Homo sapiens: one gene and its partners. The protein of the gene in region 1 purifies or fractionates together with the protein of each later gene. This does not show direct contact. Each region holds a gene or a part of one and is shown in the gene's direction. Other genes may lie near its edges. The genes, in order: AFG3L2, ZFHX4, TBX3, TBX2, AHCTF1 and SUPV3L1.

Region 1 (3,500 bases):
CTAGACATGCAGATCTTGGATTACATATGCAGAGGAGAAGAAGTTTCATTGATGATTTCTTCATAGAACACAACCTCAGTGTTAAATTCAGTCACGGATTATTGCTAGGGATATTCCATGTCAACACAATTTGAAAATAGAGCCTAAAAAGGGCTTTTCTGTCAATATTTATGGAGCGCATACAGTGCCCTGTTCTGTACTAAACTTTATGGTGATATAAAGACTTGCTTTATATGGTACTATGGTTTGAGTTTGGCCTCACCAAAACTCATGTTGAAATTTGTTCCCCATCGTGGTGGTATTGAGAGGTGGGGCCCAGTGGGAGGTGTTTGGGCCATGGGGGTGGAGCTCTCATGAGTGTCTTGGTGCCATTCTAGAGGTAGTGAGTTCTGTGAGCTGTATTGGGACTGGCTTAATTTCAGAGACCTTAGGTTGTTATAAAGTAGAAGTTCCTCCCTCATGGTATGTGGCTGCTTTGCCATTGACCTTCTCCCACCGTGTTTTGATGTAGCACCTTCTCCTGCCATAATTTGACCTAGCATGTGACCCTCACCATAAGCCCAGCACCCTGTTTCTCATACTTCCCCTCTTGCAGAACTGTGAGCTAAATAAACCTTTCTTTGTAAATTACCCAGCTTCAGGCACTCTGTTATAGCGGAACAGAAAGGACTAAGACTAAGACGTGGCAATATAAAGACCCCTTCATATTACCTCTGCACCACTCCTGTTCCCTGTACTCAGAGCTTTTGTTTGGTTACATTGTTATGCCATAGTGTAACTGATTTGTCCCATGATTTTCTTCCCTATGTTTCTGTGCTTCTTAGGGGTGGGAACTGGTTCTGATTCCCCTTCGGACACCCCACTGCTTGACAGCACCTGGCCTGGAGTTGTTGACTTGTCTAGCTTGAATAACATTTCATTTTAATCTACACCCTTAATGGATTTGGCACTGGAAAAAAACTCTTATGTTGCATTCTTATCTGTTATCAGTGGTTATTTCATAGGCCAAGTGTTCCTGTGGTTGGGCAGGGTGTAACACAACATAAGCTCCAAAGTCTCCCAGGCCAGTATTGCACTCAGACAAAAACAGTGTTGGTGTTCCTGTCCTGTTTTGCTGTGTGGAATTCTGTATTTATTTGAAGTTAAATCATCTCATTCTGTTTTATTTGTTTTTTATTGACATTTTAATTTACAAACCATTGTTCATCTTAAATGTACAGTTCATTGGTTTTTAACATATTCATAAAGTTATGCAACCATCATCACTGTCTCCAATTCCAGAACATTTTCAGCACTCCAGAAAGAAGCCCTGCGACCATTAGTAATCATTTCGCATTTCTCTGTAATCATTCCCCCAACTCTAGGCAACTACTAATGTGTCTATCTCTCTATGGATTTGCCTATTCTAGACATTTCGTATAAATGGAATCATAATATGTGACCTTTTGTGTCTGCCTTCTTTCACTTAATATGATGTTTTCAGAGTTCATCCACGTGTCAGTACTTCATTCCTTTGTTTGAGTGACTGGTATTCTCTTGTATGGGTATACCACATTTTATTTATCTGTTCATCATCAGGTGGTGAACGTTTGGCTTGTTCCTACTTTTTGACTGTTATGAATAAGGCTTCTGTGAACATTTGTGTGCATATTTTTCGTGGACATGTGTTTTCAGCTTCCTTGGGTAGGGATGGCATTGCTGGGTCATATGGTGACCCATAGAGTCATGTGGTACCATTTTGGAGCTCTGTCAAACTGTTTTCCAGAGTGGCTACACCATTTTACATTCTCACCAGCACAGTGTACAGGGCTCCAGTTTCTCACATCCTCACCCATACTTGTCTGTCTTTTTGATTATAGTGGATGTGAGGTGGTTTTATTTGGTTTTGTAATTTTTATAACTATTATTTTATTTTTATTTTTTTGAGACGGAGTCTCACTCCATCGCCCAGGCTGGAGTGCAGTGGCGTGATCTCGGCTCACTGCAACTTCTGCTGCCTGGGTTCAAGCAGTACTCCTGCCTCAGCCTCCCGAGTAGCTAGGATTACAGGCACCTGCCACTGTGCCTGGCTAATTTTTGTATTTTTAGTAGAGACGGGGTTTCACCATCTTGGCCAGGCTGGTCTTGAACTCCTGACCTCGTGATGCACCCACCTCGGCCTCCCAATGTACTGGGATTACAGGTGTGAGCCACTGCGCCTGGCCAGGGTTTGTCTTTTGAATGCTACAAATTAAACAAACATCATCAAAGTGAATGTGTTGTCACATAATTATAATTGGATTGCAATTCTACATTATGTCTGATTTTGAAATATTCTTGTTTTCTGGATAATAATGTGTGTCTCCTGGTTCTTTTGCTGGAATCAGTGGCCTAGTGCTAGGTAATCCTAGTCCTCACTAAGGGAGTCATTCTGTGTTACTTCATAACCACCTGTGGAAGAGAGAGACCTTTCATCTACTTTATGACCAGGAAATGAAGCTCTTTTAAGTTTTTTATCTTGATATAACTATGGTTTTATTTTTATGTCTTGTTGCAGCTTTACCGATTTGTTACAACTCAAGCAAGGGCCAGCAGAAATTCTCTTTTGACAGATATAATTGCTGCTTATCAAAGATTCTGTTCTCGACCCCCAAAAGGTAAATGCTTAGGTGTGGCTGTAGTGTTCTACATTCTTAGGTTGGGTCTTTTGTCTCCTTCTGTAACCCATTCCCCTGCCTCCAACTTATGTCTGATTACAGCGATGAAGATATGTCATCTTCAAATGTAACACATTTGTAGATAATGAAATTGATATGCAAAAAGGAGGCTTTTTCCTTTAACACTTCTGGGTTGTGAACTATATTATTTAGACTTTGATGTACTTGTACACAAGAAATGTTATGCTTTTAGCTTGTGCTTTTTTTTTTTTTTTTGGAGACTGAGTTTGGCTCTTGTCGCCCAGGTTGGAGTGCACTAGTGCGATCTTGGCGTACTGCAACCTCCGCCTTCTGGGTTCAAGCGATTCTCCTGCCTCAGCCTCCCGAGTAGCTGGGATTACAGGCACCTGCCACCACACCCAGCCAATTTTTTGTACTTTTAGTAGAGTCGGAGTTTCGCCATGTTGGGCAGGCTGGTCTCGAACTCCTGACCTCAGGTGATCTGCCCACCTCAGCCTCCCAAAGTGCTGGGATTACAGGCATGAGCCATTGCGCCTGGCCAGCTTGTGCTTTTCAGTGATGCATCAGCTGCTTTGAAAACAAAATGAACACAAACCTGATGAATTTTAGTTTGAAGATAAGTATTTTTTTTCTTTTTCTAACAGGATTTGAAAAATACTTTCCTAATGGAAAAAATGGAAAAAAAGCTAGTGAACCTAAAGAAGTTATGGGAGAGAAAAAAGGTACCTTTTGACAATATTATATTTGAATTTTGTGTTTTCCCCTCATGTATAATGGTGGTAGTTTCCACTGAACAAAGAAAAGAGTTATCAGGCCGGGCACAGTGTCTCACGCCTGTAATCC
Region 2 (3,500 bases), on another chromosome or scaffold:
TCATCTTAAAAAAAAAAATCCTTAAGGGAATATTTGATAGTTTTCAAGGTTTGTGGTTTCAGTCAGCAGGAAGGCACACAAAAATAAAAGATGGCTAGCCAGCTGTTTTAACCTCTTGCACCTGGCTTCAGTGTGGGGATCATAAGGTTTATACAGTTCTTTTTTTGAATGGTTTTAATATTTATGGCATAAACTGGGGAGAGCACCACTGTGTTTTTATTCAGTTGCTGGTTGATTTTGGATTTTTAAAAAAGTAAACTCATATTTAGGTGTTTTCATGTTTATGGCAATGAAGATAGGGTCAATGAAATATGGGGGAAATATCATAAATCTGAAAAGTGAAATGTACCCAAGGAACAAAGAAAGGTCAGGTAAACCAGCTGTGTAAGTCAAAGCAATAGCACCAACTGTGGGGTTAGACAGGGATAGTGGACTCTGGTTCTATGAAGTGAAAGTTGCCACTTAAAGTTAAAAATGAGGCAAACATGTTCAGTGCTTTTGTAATCTTTTGCAGTTTTTAGCAGATGAGCCCAAATCTGTTCATTAATTTTGAGCTAGTTGGATTATTTTAAAAGATTCTTCATGAGCAAAGGAAAACATAAAGGAGGCTGAGAAAATCACTGTTTAATATTGCAGAATTTACTGCTTCCATTCTGACCATGAGCCTAAATTTACACAATGAAATTTGATTATCTCTAATAACAATATTAGATCCTGCACTGGATGGATGAGAATTGAGGTGGTTTTGTTGATTGCAAGGGTTTAATGTTGCATTTCAGAATCTGATGTGGTTTGGCCTCCCCTCCATTAACTGGAAAACCCCTGAGGTTTTACAATTATTTCTTAAAGATAATACATTTAAGATTGCATTGGTAGGCTGAAGAAAAGTCATAAAGGCAAGAAGGGAAGCCCTTAATAACTCTTGAGATTCAGACATGTTCAGCAGTTAGATTGGCTCTGACTTCACCAAGGGTCGACAATGTGTCATTTCCACGAAGCCAAATTGCCCTCTGCCTATATGATATTAATGTGCAAATCAATATTTCAGGGATTAAATTTCCCTCCTTCATTTTTTATGGTTTCTACCTCAATAAGTCTCAAGTCTATTAGAAGAGGCTGGATGATTTAAAATCTTTCACTGCAGAATGGCTTGTCGTAGTCTTGTTTCATAGACCGTTTTAGGATTTTCGTTATAAAGACTAAAGACATCCTAAAGAAGTTGTGAGGCAGTGTAGACCCAGGCTCAATAGTGTAAAGCCCGTGTTCGATTAAGAACTAAAAGATATTGAAAATATAATATATACGTTTATGTAATATATATGTACATTCTGCTGCTTTAAAAATATTATGTTAATCACCTATTGATTTATTTCAAAATCAATTGAAGCTTCTTTCTTATTAGTGATTTGTTCAGCTTTCTTGAGGACTGTGTTAATTTTCTTAAAGAGTATGCATGAATTAGCTTGGTGTGAAAGTATTGGGGCAGAGGAGTTTTCAATTAGCAATATTTTCCTAAGAAATATTTTCAGCAACCATTGTTTAGGAGAGTAATAATCAAGAGGTGTCATTTGCATACATTGTTGTTATAGCTATCATTGCATTTTGTGGCTGAATGACTTAGCTGATCTATGTTAAATGAGGCCTTCTTCAATTCCTTTTACATTTTGTTTCTAGCACTTAGTAGGTGCAACGTTTCTTTTTATCCTCTTAGAGAAAGAAAATTATGAAACAAAATATGTGACTTGACTGGAAAGAATACAGAGCAGAAATTTGGAGAGAGGTCAAAATAAAAGATTGTGACTTTATCACATAATCTTGGGAAGGCCTACTGTCTATCATTTGGTGGTGTTTTATGGTCTTAAACCCTCTGGACCAAGTTCCGCACAGCTGCACGAATTTCATATGTGATAGAACATTTTTTCCATTCAGTGTGAAATGTTCCTTCCTAAAAAACGTACACCAGACTCGCTTAATTTAGTCTGTTAAAAGAAATGCACATGAAAAAGGACAAAAGGCTCTTTAATCTCTGCAAGCTGTTTGTTTTTCTTCAAGATTCCTGTCTATTTGGGTTTGAAAAGTCATGTTTATTGAGGAGATGATTCTGAGGTGTGACATTAAAATAATATATGATTTTTGGACTGGTGGCCACGCTTCTGCTTAATTTGCAGAACTACTTTTTATGCCTGTCAAAACACAGCGTTAATCTATCCTTATTTACAATTAATCTCAATAAAATTAATCTTAACTATGCTTTATTCAGTGGCTTAAAATATCTAATTATATTCAATTAACTGCTGTCATAGTAATTAATATTGCTTAATTGACTCTGCATATATTTATGTAAAGCTCATTAGGTGCTGCTGACTCCTTTTCCCTTTCCTACTTGCTATTTTTGCTGTTGTCAAACCATGTTCATCTCCCAAGGTTCGACAATGTCAATGAGAACAAATTCTTTCTTAACATTTTCTTGAAATGAATGTTCCTGCCTTCCTTTGAGAAGATACTCGTTATGAGTCTTTAAAGACTAATCCATCTCCCTCTCTTCATTTTCCTTATCCCTGGTCTCTAGCACTCTCACAAAATATGTTCTGTCATTGTTGCTAGAAATATGAGAAGCCAGGTTAAGCTTTGTGTTTATAAATGAGGAGCCTTTCTGTGACTGCCTAAGGGCTGTACCCACAGGGAGAGGGTTTCCCCCCCTTCTAAGACCACTCTAAGGGTTAAAGACTTGGCCAAGGTTCAAACTGAGAAGCGCCCAGGGAAAGTGCATGTGAATATGTACAAGTTTCATGTAATTAGTGCTTAATTATATTAACATATGCAAATTGTCAACTTAGGAGCTTGTTGAGCTGGCAAAGATCAGCTAGGCACAATTGCAGTATTGTTCTGAAACAATAATGGATTTCAAGTTGGATTGTGGAAACACATAACTAGCTATCTAATTTAACTCATACCGTGGTGAAATTTCATTAGTCTCCATGGAGACTGGTTTAATTGTGCTGACTAATGTTCTGGGCTGCAGAATGTCCTAAAAAGAAAGCGTTGTTTGCCTAATCCACCTTACAATGACACTTGTTTGTACATGTTTCCCTTGTGTGAGAATTTGCATATGCAAATAAATAGTTTCTCTGCCCCATTTGTCATGGCTGTTCATTACCCATGAAGAGGACATTGTTACTAGGCTGTTACTGAGTCTCCCAAGACGGGATAGTGTCAACCAGTCCAGCTACATTCTTTCATAATTTGTTTCTGATTAATAGACCAGAGTGAGTCTCATTCTTTTTGGGCATCTGTAAAAGGAAGGTCACTTCTGTCACAGAAAAGAGTTTCTGCAGTAACTGAAGGACTTTTTCTTCTTCTTATTCTCCCTTTTCCACCCATTGGTTAACATAATCATATTTAAAATAATGGATTCTTGTTCTAAGAATGCCTCTACTAATAATCTCTGGTTTCCTAAAGCAAAAAGATAGGAAAAGAAAAGAGATTCTGTTATTGGAATA
Region 3 (3,500 bases), on another chromosome or scaffold:
CTTGTGTCTCTTCCAATAGATAACCCAGTTAAAAATAGACAACAACCCTTTTGCAAAAGGTTTCCGGGACACTGGAAATGGCCGAAGAGAAAAAAGGTGAGTTGAAACAATTATTTATTAGATAGTTTAGAAAAATCCCTTTTTTTAGGATCCAACTCTGAAGTGTTAGAAGTGAGATGCAGGCACTTATCCTAAGAGCGGGTGGAAATCATTCACTTTCCCCACTGCTACATGCTTGCCGCTATCAGTATACCCAGGACAAGTACTTTTCCTACCTCCTTACCTTTAAGGAAATTAACTAGGCTACACCATACTTATCTCTGGAAGAGAAGCATCAGGGATAATAGATTATACAGGGATGCCTATTAATTCCTAATTAATTTAAGTTCATCCTAGGCAGGTCCCAGAAAGAACCATGCCATTGAGAAAATACTTGGGAATTTTTGCAATCCTGTCTTCCAAATACCATCAGACAGAGCTGGGGACTTCGGAAAGATGTATGGCTCTCTCCCTCCTTCGTGGGGACATGTATCATTTTGCATTACGTAGACAGCTGGAGAGTATATGAAAGAGGGTCTCCCCTCCCCCACCCCCTTTCAAAGAATTTCTAAAATCCAGAAAATCACCCCCAAATTTTTAACCTATCCCCTTGGGGCGGGCATTAAAAAATAATTGCTAACAGCTAAATATATTTTTATTCCAATTAATTTGTTAGTAAAACGATTACAGTAAAGTGCAGCATGAAATAACCACTTCCTCCCAATCTTAGCCACCATCCAAAATTTGGGTATGCTGGGGACAGACAGCGTTGTGTTTGCAGGATTGGACACCCGGTTCTCCCTATATAAGGCTGGCAGTCCAGCTGTCTCTGACTAGATCCAGCCTCTTCTCCTGCTTTTAAATAAAATTTCACAGCCCAAGCAAATGCCTTTTCCTAATGAAACCCCATCTTGAATAAATGCAACTGAAGCCTCCTTCCTTTCTCCCTAACCCTCTGCCACACTCTTCAGCCCAGTTAGAGGGTCAAGGACAAAGCTTGGGTCTATGTGGCTGCCCTGGGGCAAGCAGATTTCAGTGAATTAGCGTTGTCCCTGGGCAGCAGGCAGGGTGTGAGGTATGTGTGTGCCGCTTTGGAAAGGGTAAGGGAAACAAAGAGGGGAAATGTATGTTACATTCTGTAACCTGGGTGTGGGCTTCTGCCACAGAAAACAGCTCACCCTGCAGTCCATGAGGGTGTTTGATGAAAGACACAAAAAGGAGAATGGGACCTCTGATGAGTCCTCCAGTGAACAAGCAGCTTTCAACTGCTTCGCCCAGGCTTCTTCTCCAGCCGCCTCCACTGTAGGGACATCGAACCTCAAAGGTAAACCATGTCACCTTTGTGATCACTGGACTCCAGTCCCTCGTGGCCTGGAAGAGTTGAAGGGGGATGGGGCACCAACCAGGGCACTTGCCCTTTAAAAGCTAGAAGCCTTCTAAACATCCTTAAACAGAAGCCAGAGTTCAAAAAGGGCTATCAGGTGTGTCTCCCCTTCCCCGCTAAGGCAGTAGAAGGAGAGCACAGAGGCCTTTCTCCCAGATCCTTATTTGGCTGGTGGGGAGGGGAGGTGGGTGTCTGTTTGCATACTACCTCTTGGCAAGCAGCTTTGAAAACTTGCTTGAAGCGCTTCTCTCTTTTCTCTCTGTCTCTGTTTCTTTCTCCTCCCATTCTCTCCAACCAACAGAGGCTCCAACTGCTGACTTTTCACTGTCTTTGAACTCTAGGTTACAATGTGTTGGACTGGGTGGGGGGGAAGCAAGGGACTCTGCCACCTGGAACCGAGAAGGTGGCCTAGAAAACATCCAGCTATAAAGCAACAATTGACCTGGGAGAGGAGGTGGAGCACTGGGGATCTGCGGTGGGGGTAGAGCTGGGGGAGGTGGGTGAGGAGTGGACAAGATGGCTCAAATCCCCCCTCAGTTACCTGTGTTTAAAGAGCAAGCAGTATTTATTTGGAAAGACACACACACACACACACACACACACACACACACACACACACTCTCAACGGGAAGAAACCTGTTTTTTAGTGAAATAAAATGCAAGTCCTTTATGTCTTCAATCCATTTAAGCTTTAAACATAAAATAGGATCCCTTTTTCTTTTCTTCTGGTGGAACACCCACAGAGGGTGTGGTAAAAGCGAAAAAAGAATCTATGATCGTCCCCGGGCTGTGAGCCATCTGTCCGACACTCATCTCTCTCTGCAGGGACTGGGGCAAATACAAACGGTTCAACTGAGTACTGGTGTTGAAGGACAGGTGTCCGTTCTGCCATTATCAATTCAGATGTCAGGGTTCTTGCCAAACAAATCCTTCCAGAGTAATTCACAAATTTGTGGAAGGTGCTGCTCTCTGTCATTCACTGATTTTTTGATAGTAATTAGAATATGTTCCAGCTGTGAGTTTTAATGTTACTTTTTACTTTTAAAAAGTTAATTTGCAATCGAATGGGGAGATGCATGTGAAATCTGCCACTGTAGGAACTCAAAAAAAGAAGTAAAATTCATTAAAATAAGAAGAGCTACTGATTAGGGGATTGTCCATCTAAGGGAAAGTTTAAACTCTGGGTAAATACTTTAAATTCATAATCGCTTATTGAATTTTCCAGCAATGTTGTTGGGCACGATTATCCCCATTTTGCAGATGACAACACTGAGGTGCAGAGAGGCTAAGGGGCTTTCCCCGGGATTACACAGCCACTAAGCCACGAGCTGGGATTCCAACTTGGGAACTGGAGTTCCGTTGGCTCATACTGGAGATAACGCCCTTCTGCCTTGGTTTTTTCCTTCGCCTGTGGTAGATTTATGTCCCAGCGAGGGTGAGAGCGACGCCGAGGCCGAGAGCAAAGAGGAGCATGGCCCCGAGGCCTGCGACGCGGCCAAGATCTCCACCACCACGTCGGAGGAGCCCTGCCGTGACAAGGGCAGCCCCGCGGTCAAGGCTCACCTTTTCGCTGCTGAGCGGCCCCGGGACAGCGGGCGGCTGGACAAAGCGTCGCCCGACTCACGCCATAGCCCCGCCACCATCTCGTCCAGCACTCGCGGCCTGGGCGCGGAGGAGCGCAGGAGCCCGGTTCGCGAGGGCACAGCGCCGGCCAAGGTGGAAGAGGCGCGCGCGCTCCCGGGCAAGGAGGCCTTCGCGCCGCTCACGGTGCAGACGGACGCGGCCGCCGCGCACCTGGCCCAGGGCCCCCTGCCTGGCCTCGGCTTCGCCCCGGGCCTGGCGGGCCAACAGTTCTTCAACGGGCACCCGCTCTTCCTGCACCCCAGCCAGTTTGCCATGGGGGGCGCCTTCTCCAGCATGGCGGCCGCTGGCATGGGTCCCCTCCTGGCCACGGTTTCTGGGGCCTCCACCGGTGTCTCGGGCCTGGATTCCACGGCCATGGCCTCTGCCGCTGCGGCGCAGGGACTGTCCGGGGCGTCCGCGGCCACCCTGCCCTTCCACCTCCAGCAGCACGTCC
Region 4 (4,050 bases), on another chromosome or scaffold:
TTCACTCTCCCCGTGCACACCTTGAGTTATAGCTCTCGCTGCGCACAGAGGGCACCACACGGGGCCCGACACACACACACACACACACACACACACACACACACACACACACACCATCACTTCATGGGGGGGAAACTGAGGCTGCCGGAAGACAGAAAACGAAGACTGATCACAGAAGAGGGGGCTTCAATCACAGGTGCTCGCAGACACCCCAACTCCCTCACGCGTTACTCAGCACTCCTTAACTTAGGAGACGTGCGCTTCCGAGAGATGAGAAGAAACTAAAAAAGTGGTTGGCAGGGCGAAGAGAGGAAGCCGGTATTTCGGAAGAAGGAGACTTTCGTCTCCGGTACCGGATAGGGCGAAAATTCGTTGGGTCGCGGGTGGAGAATCCGGGGTCCGCCCGCGCGGTGCCGCCCTGTGCTCAGCGAAAGGTGCGCTCACCTTCCTGGCCCCGAGGATCCGCTCCTCCCGGCCGCTGGAAAGCTCAGGGCGGGGCCCGGGCCTGCGGAGAACTCCAGGTTCCTTCCGAGTCTTCCGGTGAAGGCGGGCGCGGGTAGGGGGTCCCCGCGTTTCCCCAGCGCAAGGCCGCGTCCCGCTCCCGCCCGCGCCGGCCCCAGCAGGGCTCGGCCATGGCTCCACTCACCAGCTCCCGCCACCTGGGATCCGCTCCCGGACCTCGGCCGCCCGAGCCTCCCGACTCGCCCGCCCACCGGCCTCGCTTTCCAGTGCCTGCTGTCTCTTTCCGGGGCGCAGGGACCCCCAGGCGGCGCCACGACCCGGAGCTGGGTCGGAGGCCAGGCTGGGGCTCGGGCCAGAGCGGCCGGGCCTCTGGGCGCGGGAGAAGGAGGGCGCCCCCTCTCCGCTCGGGGTCGTGTCAATGCTTTGCACTTGGGGCCGGCGTGCGGCTGCGGGTCCTTCCCCAAGGCCCCGGGACCCGGGCTCCCCTCGCCTCAGGCCCTTTCGGCGGGTCAGGTCGGCCCTCCGCGCTCTCCAGTCCGGCGCAGGCAGCCGCAGGCGCGGGCGGGCGGTGGGGGCCGGGGCAGGAGGAGGGGTCTCGGGGCCCGGCGGCCCGTCATTGGTTAATATTTTATTCTGTTGACATGTTTTCTTACTGCTGAGGCTTCCGACACCTTCTCCCAGGCCCCCCCTCCCGGCCGGAGCTTGGCCTGAGCTGTCAAAACCCCGCCCCCGGAGACCCACAATTGGTCCAAAAAGCGTAAAATCAGCAATCAAGGGGGGCCTGGCTCGTTAGCGCAGGGGATCCGAGCTGGGCAGGACATGTGAGATAGTCACAGTTTTCCAGAGATCACGACAAGATCTAACCAGTCGCGCGTGGTCCCCGGCGCCGGAGCGGGCCAGCTCAGCCCGGCCCAGCCCGGCCCCGCGCAGAGCCCCCGCCGCCCCCGCGCACAGAGCCGGGTGCCCCTTGCGGTGCGCCGGACGGGAAGCCCCGAGGAGCAGCTGCTGCGCCCGCCACCCGGGTCGTCCGTCCACCGCGCGCGCCGCCGCCCGGGCCGGGGGTCCGAGCCGCGCGCCCCCGGCCCCGGCCCCGGCCCCCGGGCGCCTGGGCCGGATGTCCCGATGAGAGAGCCGGCGCTGGCGGCCAGCGCCATGGCTTACCACCCGTTCCACGCGCCACGGCCCGCCGACTTCCCCATGTCCGCCTTTCTGGCGGCGGCGCAGCCCTCCTTCTTCCCGGCACTCGCGCTGCCGCCCGGCGCGCTGGCCAAGCCGCTGCCCGACCCGGGCCTGGCGGGGGCGGCGGCCGCGGCGGCGGCGGCGGCAGCAGCGGCCGAGGCGGGGCTGCACGTCTCGGCACTGGGCCCGCACCCGCCCGCCGCGCATCTGCGCTCCCTCAAGAGCCTGGAGCCCGAGGACGAGGTGGAGGACGACCCCAAGGTGACGCTGGAGGCCAAGGAGCTGTGGGACCAGTTCCACAAGCTAGGCACGGAGATGGTCATCACCAAGTCCGGGAGGTAGGGCTGCCGGCCGGCTGGAAGGCGCGCGGGCGGGCGGGCGGGCTGGGGCACGGGACTGCACGGATCAGAGCAGAGCTGGGGACTCCCGGCTCCCGGCTCCCGGCTCCAGGTTCTGGCCCTGACGCCACGCTTCGCTCCCACGGACAACCAAGTTGACTTTTCTCGTTTGGCACCGGAGCGATTTTTTTTTAAAACAAAAACGCTAAAATCCTCCGAATGAAATAAAACGAAAACATACTGCTAAAGAATAGCCCCAACCGTTCTGAGTCCCAGCGCAGAGGAGGCCCCGCGGCTTGGCCCTGGCGGTCTCCTCCGCCCCGCGCTCTCGCTCTTCTGCGTCCGGGTCCGTCTCCGAGCTCGGGGGAAATTCAGCCTCTCTCAGACTCTGCTCCGACCCCGAAGCCCCTAGTGGGACCTGGGCCCAGCTAACCCCACGCTGGTTGCTCGGTTCCTGGCAGCGAGCCCCGGGTCAGCCGAGCCCTCCGCCTCACCGGGCTGGGAGCCCTTTCTCCACCGCGGGCATCCGAGCCCTGGACGCATCCGCCGCCCCAGGCCTTAAAGCCTGAAGAAAGCCACAGCCCCGGCCCCTCCACCCTTCGACTCAGCCACCGAGAATCCAGGCCTCGGGTTCACCCTCTTCCCCCGAACTGCACGGCCAGGATGTCTTATCAGGCTCTGTAGCCCAGTTCCCAATACAAACACCCTCCAGATTTATTTCTGGGAGCTTCCGTCCCAAGTGGGTATTTCCCCTGAACGAATTTCGGGGAGATTAAGGAGAAGCGAGAATATTTCTAGAGGGCCTAGACTTCTCTCCTGGGCATCAGCTTTCATCTCAGATCAGGGAGAAAGAGGGTCCCCAGATCTGAGCACAAGGCCTAAAGGAGGCTGTTTAGGAGAGGGTCTGACAGGCAGAAATGGGATCTCCTGGGAGCAACAACCACAGGTGGGGTCGTCCGGGCAGTGATGAGAGGGCAGAGCAGCCGACCACAGGGGAAACAGCCAGGCGGCAGCGGTGTGCGCAACGAGGAGGGATAAATAAAGGAGGAGTGGGGTCCTGGAACCTAGAACAGCCGGTTCCAATGGGATCTCCTCCCTTCCCTCCCTCCCAGGCGGATGTTCCCCCCCTTCAAGGTGCGAGTCAGCGGCCTGGACAAGAAGGCCAAGTATATCCTGCTGATGGACATTGTAGCCGCTGACGATTGCCGCTATAAGTTCCACAACTCGCGCTGGATGGTGGCGGGCAAGGCCGACCCTGAGATGCCCAAACGCATGTACATCCACCCAGACAGCCCAGCCACGGGGGAGCAGTGGATGGCTAAGCCTGTGGCCTTCCACAAGCTGAAGCTGACCAACAACATCTCTGACAAGCACGGCTTCGTGAGTGTTGGGGCAGGGTGGGGACGGTGCAGGAGCTTGTTGACCCAGCACTGCAGCTGAGCAGGAGAGCAGGGCGGCAGGATCTCCCAGGGGGAAGCGCTGGGCAAACCCCCAGAGTGCCCCTGCCCGGGTCACTGCCCTGTGGTCTACGTGGGCTGGGCCTGGGCCTGGGCCCCAGCGCTCTCCTTTGCAAGCCTGGGAAATGGTGGGGTCAGTGGCTGGCAGCTCACAATCTCAGTTCCTCAGGCCGTGGAGGGTCCCTTGTACCGTCAATAGGGAGGCAGGTGCTGCCAGGACTGGGTCTGCAGTGCTGGACCACGGAGGTCACCCTGCTCTTGGCCTGTAGGTGCCGAGCTTGGAAGACCTGCCCATGACCTCAACTTGTCCATCACCCTTCTGCCAAGACCCGCGTCCCTGGCCCTCCCCCAAGACTAGGGGATTTAAAAGTTAAACCACCCTCCCCACCCACCCCCCCAGCCTCCCTAAGACCTTTCCCTCCTCCCACAGGCAGATGCCCAACTAGGAGGAGAGGGTTTGGGGGTTCTCTCCATTTATGCCTGAGCAAGGCCCCAGCGAACGGGGGTGGTGTTTCATAGGGTAAAAGGAACTGCCCATTCTGAGGTAGGGCAGTTGGTGAGCCCCCGAAGGTTGGAATCTCCTCTTTGTGGGGTTAGGGGGTTTACCAGTGCCA
Region 5 (3,500 bases), on another chromosome or scaffold:
CGGGTGGATCACGAGATCAGGAGATCGAGACCATCCTGGCTAACACTACTAAAAAAAATACAAAGAAATTATCCGGGCGTGGTGGCGGGCGCCTGTAGTCCCAGCTACTCGGGAGACTGAGGCAGGAGAATGGTGTGAACCTGGGAGGCAGAGCTTGCAGTGATCCAAGATTGTGCCACTGTATTCCAGCCCGGGGGGCCAAATAATAATAATAATAAATAAAGTAGATGACTTGTTGTACTGATACAGTTTGAGCCCAGGAGAATGACTCTCCCCATAACAATTGATCATTTGTCCTAAAAATGATTTGTAGCTATAGGGGATCCTCCTCTCCCCTCGTCACTCAGAAAATTTTTAATTGGATCTTCGATTTTGGTAGTATAACTTAATTTCTTCACAGTGTTAGAAAAGTGTGGTTAGACCTATGTTTTGCATGGAGGAGAATGAAATGACAGAATGTGTGATATTTTAGCCAACTTTTTTTAAGTTCATTTTATTAAGGTTTTATTAAAAAGTTAAAATGAAAAACATTTTATTGGCAGGGAGTGGCAGGAAGTCATTCACATAACTTATACACTCCTCAGGACCTGGAGGAATATAGTAACCACCAAAAGTGAGAGTTATTTTGTTAGAGCTTAGCAAACATCTCAGTAATTCTGATTTTTGTCATCTTTACCTATTTTTCATTTCTGTACCTACTAATTTTAACTTTTTTCTGTTAAACTAAAAATACCTGCAACAACATGGCCAAAAAAACCCCATCTCTACAAAAAGTACAAAAATTAGCCAGACCTGGTGGCATAGGCTTGTGGTCCCAGCTACTTGGGAGGCTGAGGCAGGAGGATCACTTGAGCCTGAGAGTTTGAGGCTGCAGTGAGCCATGATCGTGTGCCCCTGCACTCCAGCCTGGGCAACAGAGCAAGACCACGTCTCAAAACAAAAACAATACATGCCTACTTACTGAAAACTCTAAAATAGAAGTATATAATCCAGCCATCGAAAGAATCACCATTCACGTTTTCCTGTATATCGTTCCAGATACATATGTATGGTTGGTATTTAAAAACCTGCAGTTTATGTACGTGCATATATTCTGCTTTTGTCCCCCTACTTATGTCATGAGCATTTTCAGTTTTTTTTTTGTTTGTTTTTTTTTTTTGAGATGGAGTTTGGCTGTTGTTACCCAGGCTGGAGTGCAATGGTGTGATCTTGGCTCACTGCAACCTCCGCCTCCTGAGTTCAAACAATTCTCCTGCCTCAGCCTCCCCAGTAGCTGGGATTACAGGTGCTTGCCACCACGCCTGGGTCATTTTTTTGTATTTTTAGTAGAGACAGGGTTTCGCCATGTTGGCCAAGCTAGTCTCAAACGCCTGACCTCAGATAATCCACCCGCCTTGGCCTCCCAAAGTGCTGGGATTATAGGCATGAGCCACTGTGCCCAGCCTTCAGTTAATCTTAAATATTCTTCAAAATCCAACCAGCCTGGGCAACTTAGTGGGACCCCATCTCTACAAAAGAAAAATTTTTAATGATTTGGGCATGTGGTGGCTGCACCTGTAGTCCCAGCTACTTGGGAGGCTGAGGTGTGAGGATGGCTTGAGCCCGGGAGGTTGAGGTTGCAGTGAGCCATCACACCACTGTGCTCCAGCCCAGGTGACAGATTGAGATCCTGTCACCTCCCCACCCCCATCCCCCCAAAAAATATATATATGTATATGTATATATATTTCAAAATCTTAAACGTAATATTTCTTTTTTTTTCATATTGGCATTTCATCTCACAAATGTGCCACAGATTGTTTAAACCCTCTTCTGTTGGGTATTTGAATTGCTTTCAGATTTTTTAATATTAAAAATAGGCACCTGCTAGAATGAGATGATGGGATTGGAAGGGATAAGAAACTTGGGATTGAGATCTCTCATTTCTGCCACTTACTAGCTGGGCAGAAAATCATTTAACCTTTATGAGCCTTGTTTCCTCCTCCTAGAATGAATGTGGTAGTGCATACCTTACAGGGGTTCTTATGAGTATTCACTCCTTTAACAAAGCAATGACCACTCTAGGACATAGCTTCCTGTCTTCCTCTGCCCTTTATACTGTTACCATACTTTCTGTCCCTTGTGCCTATTTATATTCTAAACTTCGTTTTTACATAGGGATGCAGGTGCCGAGAAGACTGGGTATAGGTATACTATATGATTGGAAGGCTAGAGGTGGTCCTTTATTTTATTGAAACATAGCGAAGAAATTATCTTAGAATTTTGTGTTTTACTAAATGAATATGAAACTTCACATTTCATACAGCAGATATTAAGAAGGGCCTGCTATATACCTAAGGCCATACTAGATACATGACATTCATATATCGTTTGATTCCCACTTCAACCCAGTAAAGTGTAGGTACTTTTACTTCCTTCTGTCCTCATTGAGGAAACTGAAGTTCATTGAGACTGTGCACTCACATCACCCAGGGAATAAGTAAGATGTGTTGTTCTAGAGCTACTACTGCTACTACTGGCTGGTAAGAGCCAATTGTTAAATATCCAAGAACTTGTAACCCAGCCATGGTTTGCATTGGCCACAGGAGGCACATTTATACCTTAGAAATCAGCAAATGCTGCAAATCAGAGCTCTCTTTGAATTTCCAGAGTCATTTGCTAGGACACAGTTGGGTTTGAACCTAGGCCTTTTGAACTCCTTAATCCTCAAAACAAGAGATGGGTAAAGAATTGACATACACTCAAGAAAGTCTCATCTGTGCTATAATAGAAGCACATGGAAAAAATGGTGGAGGCTATTTTTGCATGTGATAGTATATTTTTGTATTTCCTTATATATTTGAAATGGAGTAGGAAAGCTTAGGTGAAGATTACGAAAAGTGAAATAAATCGTTTTTTCAGGTAGCCTAGAAGAGAGTTATAGAATGTATAATTTTCGTAGAAATACTTTTGTTCATCTGTTTCTTGAAGCCAAGAGAGAGACCACCAGTAGACCTAGCCATTGCCATTTCTGCCATTTACAAGCTGGGAGCAGAGATTATATATTTCTGATATCTGATATCAACTCTATTTTTCTTTTTTTTAAGAATCATATGCTTATATATACACCTACTGTGTACCCACAAAAAACATTTTTATATATACACCTACTGTGTACCCACAGAAAACATTTTTATATATACACCTACTGTGTACCCACAAAAAACATTTTTATATATACACCTACTGTGTACCCACAAAAAACATTTTTTTAAAGAATCATGCTCGAAAAGCAGAATTTGATAGAACTCTTGACTATCCCAGTAGCTGAAGTAACATGAACTGTGATTTTATTTCAAGGGTTTGTAAATGATATTCTTGAAATAACAAATGCAAACATCTGTAGAGCACTTACCACCTACCCTGCCACACATTGTTCTGCTTCTTTCATCCTCAGAACAACTTTGAGATAGATGCTACTATTAACCCTATTTTATAGAAACTGATGCACAGACAGGTTT
Region 6 (3,500 bases), on another chromosome or scaffold:
TTGATTGAACCTCATGATCTGAAGTTCTGACAGAGTGGTCATCACACCCTAAGTCTTCCAAGAGTACAGGAAATTCTTCACTTCTTGACAAAACCTTGTGGGGCTTGAGTAGATCTCTTCGAATTAAATAAATCAGTACTCTTAGAAGTTGGAGACCCAGCAAGTTTGTCGTTTTCAAAGTGTTGTATGTCAGATATTGGGGCCTTTGATACACATCTAATTGCCAGACACAGTTTATATTCCTTTTTGAAATTCTTAGAGTTGGAAGTAACTGGTTTCCTTTTAATCCTGCTTCTCTTTTTCTTTACCAGAGTTCTATAGTAAAATGAATTATTATTATTATTATTATTTTTTGAGACAAGGTCTCACTCTGTTACCCAGGCTGGAGTGCTGTGGTGCAATCACAACTCACTGCAGTCTCAGCCTCCTGGACTCAAGTGATCCTCCCACTTCAGCCTCCCAAATAGCTGGGACTACAGGTGTTTGCCACCATGCCCATCTAATTTTTTATTTTTTGAGCAGAGGGCATCTCACTGTGTTACCAAGGCTGGTCTCGAACTCCAGTGCTCAAGCAATTCTCCCACCTTGGCCTCCCAAAGTGCTGGGATTATAAGCATAAGCCAAGGAAATAGTTTTGAATTAGCCTGTTATTTTAGTTTTGTGCTCAGTTTTCAAGGAGAGATAGTGGAATATAGTGGAAGAAATTTTGGAGTCCATTCTGTGTTTTGCCATTCTTAGCTTTGCATTCTTTAGACAAGTCACAGAAGGTTAGACTTGCAAAATGTGCCTCAGACATTAATTTTTTATTGGGCTCAGTTTTACTATTTTATAAAATGGAAATAGCAGTTAATAACCTTTCTGAACTTAACACATTGCCGTGAAAATGAAATATATGAGAAAAAGCTTTGAAAACAGGTGAAACACTCTGTTTCATCTTATTAATTTAGAGATGCCAATGAGAAGTGATGGTAACACTTATAATATCAAAATAAATGTTTTTCTGTGTTTTCTTTTGAAAAACATTGGTACTTATCAGTTTTTAGCTACTCTTAACTGCATTACAATCTTTTCACTTAATTACTAGTCACAAGAAGTTGAGTTGGGTGTGTCATTTTGCCATTTCATGTCTTTATTGTAGGTTCGAGACTATAAGAGGCTTACCCCCATTTCTGTGCTGGACCATGCACTAGAATCTTTAGATAACCTTCGGCCTGGGGACTGCATTGTCTGTTTTAGCAAGAATGATATTTATTCTGTGAGTCGGCAGATTGAAATTCGGGGATTAGAATCAGCTGTTATATATGGCAGTCTCCCACCTGGTAATTATTGACTTTCCTCGTGACAAGATATGAAATCTCCTATCTTTGCAATTTATGTTGAGATATATATAAAAAAATGGTAAACAATATTGAATTAAGCTGCTTGATGTATTGGTAATTTGTTAAACGTCATATAAAATAAATAATTTTCTATTTCATCTTAGTGGAAATAGAAGTATTTTAATTATAGTTCTTGTTAGTTGCTGCTATTATTAGACTGTATCTTAAATGTTGAGTTTATTATTTTCTTACAGAAATGTCATTGAAATCTGGTCTTGACCATGTCCTTTTAAGTTGTAGTCCTGAAATCTGTGTCCTCAGGAATAAGGCTAGTGTGGTGGGGGATTGTGTTGCTATATGACGGAGTATTTGAAGGAATGGATGTAAAGGATAAGTGGCTCTTTGAGGATATAAAGAAATAAAGTTTGAAACAGTAAAGGTTTTATCATTAAAAATGGGAAGAACAGGAGGTGAGGGTTTCCAAGATGTACTTAGCTTGATGTAATAAAAGACTGAGAACACTGATTTAACATAAATTGTTCTTGTTTTAGGGACCAAACTTGCTCAAGCAAAAAAGTTTAATGATCCCAATGACCCATGCAAAATCTTGGTTGCTACAGATGCAATTGGCATGGGACTTAATTTGTAAGTAATTTGTTTTTAATAAGATGAATATTTGGTGAGTTAAATGGTGGTTTTTTTGTTTTTCAGTTTTCTAATTGGCATTAATGACCAAACGCTATGATTTGGGAGAATAAATATTATAGGCTAGATTTGAGGTTTGTCTTGCCTACACCTATTGAGGGAAATAAAAAGAAAATATTAAATAGTGCCAGGACTTTTCTTAGGGACAGGGTCTTGCTCTTTTACCCACGCTGGAGTGCAGTGATCAAATTGTAGCTCAGTGCAGTCTTGAACTCCTGGGCCCAAGTGATCCTCCTGCCTCAGCCTCCAGAGTAGCTGGGACCACAGGTGCACACCACAAAGCCTGGTTATTTTCTTTTTTTTTGGGTAGTGACAAGGTCTTACCCTGTTGCCCAAGCTAGTCTCTAACTCCTGGCCTCCAGTGATCTTCCCACCTCAGCCTCCCAAAGTGCTAGGATTACAGGCATGAGCCACTACACTCGGCCCACACTAGGACGTTTGAATGCTGCCCACCACTACTGCTAACCTATTGTACTACGTCACTTTACTTTCAGTTTCTCAGTCAGGTGTCCGAGTGCCTATTATGCACATGGGGCTAGTTATTATCTCTAAATGATAACAATGTTAAGCCTAAATATTATTTATTTATGTATTTATTTATTTCTGAGACAGAGTCTCACTCTGTGCCCCACGCCGGAGTACAGTGGTGTGATCATGGCTCACCGCAGCTTCAAACTCCTGGGCTCAAGCGGTCTTTGTGCCTCAGCCCCCCGAGTACTAGAGCAACAGGCACACACCACTGAACCTAGCTGATGTTTTTAATTTTTTGTAGAGACTTGGGTCTTGCTATGTTGCCCAGGCTGGTTTTGAACTCCTGGCCTCAAAACAATCCTCCTGCCTCAGCCTCCCAAAGTGCTGGGATTATGGGTGTGAGCCACTGTGCCAGACTTTCCTTAATTTTGTAAGTGGCAGTCAAGGTTGCAAGAGGACCTAAGCTAGTATTGGAGTGAGCATTATGCAATGACCCAAGTATTGGAGGGTTTTTCATACAGTCTGCAGGATCACTTTTATTTCTGTTTCAGGAGCATAAGGAGAATTATTTTTTACTCCCTTATAAAGCCCAGTATCAATGAAAAGGGAGAGAGAGAACTAGAACCAATCACAACCTCTCAAGCCCTGCAGATTGCTGGCAGAGCTGGCAGATTCAGCTCACGGTTTAAAGAAGGAGAGGTTACAACAATGAATCATGAAGATCTCAGTTTATTAAAGGAAATTTTGAAGAGGCCTGTGGATCCTATAAGGGTAAGAGGTAACATGTTAACTACTGCTTCTCTGTGGAGGAGAGTCATTCTTTCCCTCACCCACCATCCAGACTCTCACCTCAGACACATTTCTGGATACAGACATAAGTGAAAGAAAATTTTGTGCCATGAAAACTGCATTAAAAAAAGCCCTACTTTATTGCTTTGGAGAGCCACAGAGTTCTTTGATCAGAGAATGGTATGCAAGTGAAGGTCCAGATTGACAAAGTTTAGT

What was found.
Region 2: the proteins of AFG3L2 (region 1) and ZFHX4 purify together in Homo sapiens (affinity purification with mass spectrometry; one large-scale study listed by BioGRID and IntAct). This does not show direct contact.
Region 3: the proteins of AFG3L2 (region 1) and TBX3 purify together in Homo sapiens (affinity purification with mass spectrometry; one large-scale study listed by BioGRID and IntAct). This does not show direct contact.
Region 4: the proteins of AFG3L2 (region 1) and TBX2 purify together in Homo sapiens (affinity purification with mass spectrometry; one large-scale study listed by BioGRID and IntAct). This does not show direct contact.
Region 5: the proteins of AFG3L2 (region 1) and AHCTF1 purify together in Homo sapiens (affinity purification with mass spectrometry; one large-scale study listed by BioGRID and IntAct). This does not show direct contact.
Region 6: the proteins of AFG3L2 (region 1) and SUPV3L1 purify together in Homo sapiens (affinity purification with mass spectrometry; one large-scale study listed by BioGRID and IntAct). This does not show direct contact.

The regions. Positions count from the first base shown.
Region 1 is NC_000018.10:12,370,728-12,374,227, reverse strand, and holds part of AFG3L2 (mitochondrial inner membrane m-AAA protease component AFG3L2), read left to right. Parts: intron 1-2,536; coding exon 2,537-2,636; intron 2,637-3,301; coding exon 3,302-3,379; intron 3,380-3,500. UniProt on the Homo sapiens protein: Catalytic component of the m-AAA protease, a protease that plays a key role in proteostasis of inner mitochondrial membrane proteins, and which is essential for axonal and neuron development.
Region 2 is NC_000008.11:76,684,247-76,687,746, forward strand, and holds part of ZFHX4 (zinc finger homeobox protein 4), read left to right. Parts: intron 1-3,500. UniProt on the Homo sapiens protein: May play a role in neural and muscle differentiation. May be involved in transcriptional regulation.
Region 3 is NC_000012.12:114,674,176-114,677,675, reverse strand, and holds part of TBX3 (T-box transcription factor TBX3), read left to right. Parts: intron 1-19; coding exon 20-96; intron 97-1,205; coding exon 1,206-1,363; intron 1,364-2,840; coding exon 2,841-3,500.
Region 4 is NC_000017.11:61,398,593-61,402,642, forward strand, and holds the start of TBX2 (T-box transcription factor TBX2), read left to right. Parts: upstream 1-1,250; 5' UTR 1,251-1,584; coding exon 1,585-1,979; intron 1,980-3,091; coding exon 3,092-3,359; intron 3,360-4,050. UniProt on the Homo sapiens protein: Transcription factor which acts as a transcriptional repressor. May also function as a transcriptional activator.
Region 5 is NC_000001.11:246,844,949-246,848,448, reverse strand, and holds part of AHCTF1 (protein ELYS), read left to right. Parts: intron 1-3,500. UniProt on the Homo sapiens protein: Required for the assembly of a functional nuclear pore complex (NPC) on the surface of chromosomes as nuclei form at the end of mitosis. May initiate NPC assembly by binding to chromatin and recruiting the Nup107-160 subcomplex of the NPC.
Region 6 is NC_000010.11:69,197,234-69,200,733, forward strand, and holds part of SUPV3L1 (ATP-dependent RNA helicase SUPV3L1, mitochondrial), read left to right. Parts: intron 1-1,138; coding exon 1,139-1,319; intron 1,320-1,870; coding exon 1,871-1,964; intron 1,965-3,046; coding exon 3,047-3,266; intron 3,267-3,500. UniProt on the Homo sapiens protein: Major helicase player in mitochondrial RNA metabolism. Component of the mitochondrial degradosome (mtEXO) complex, that degrades 3' overhang double-stranded RNA with a 3'-to-5' directionality in an ATP-dependent manner.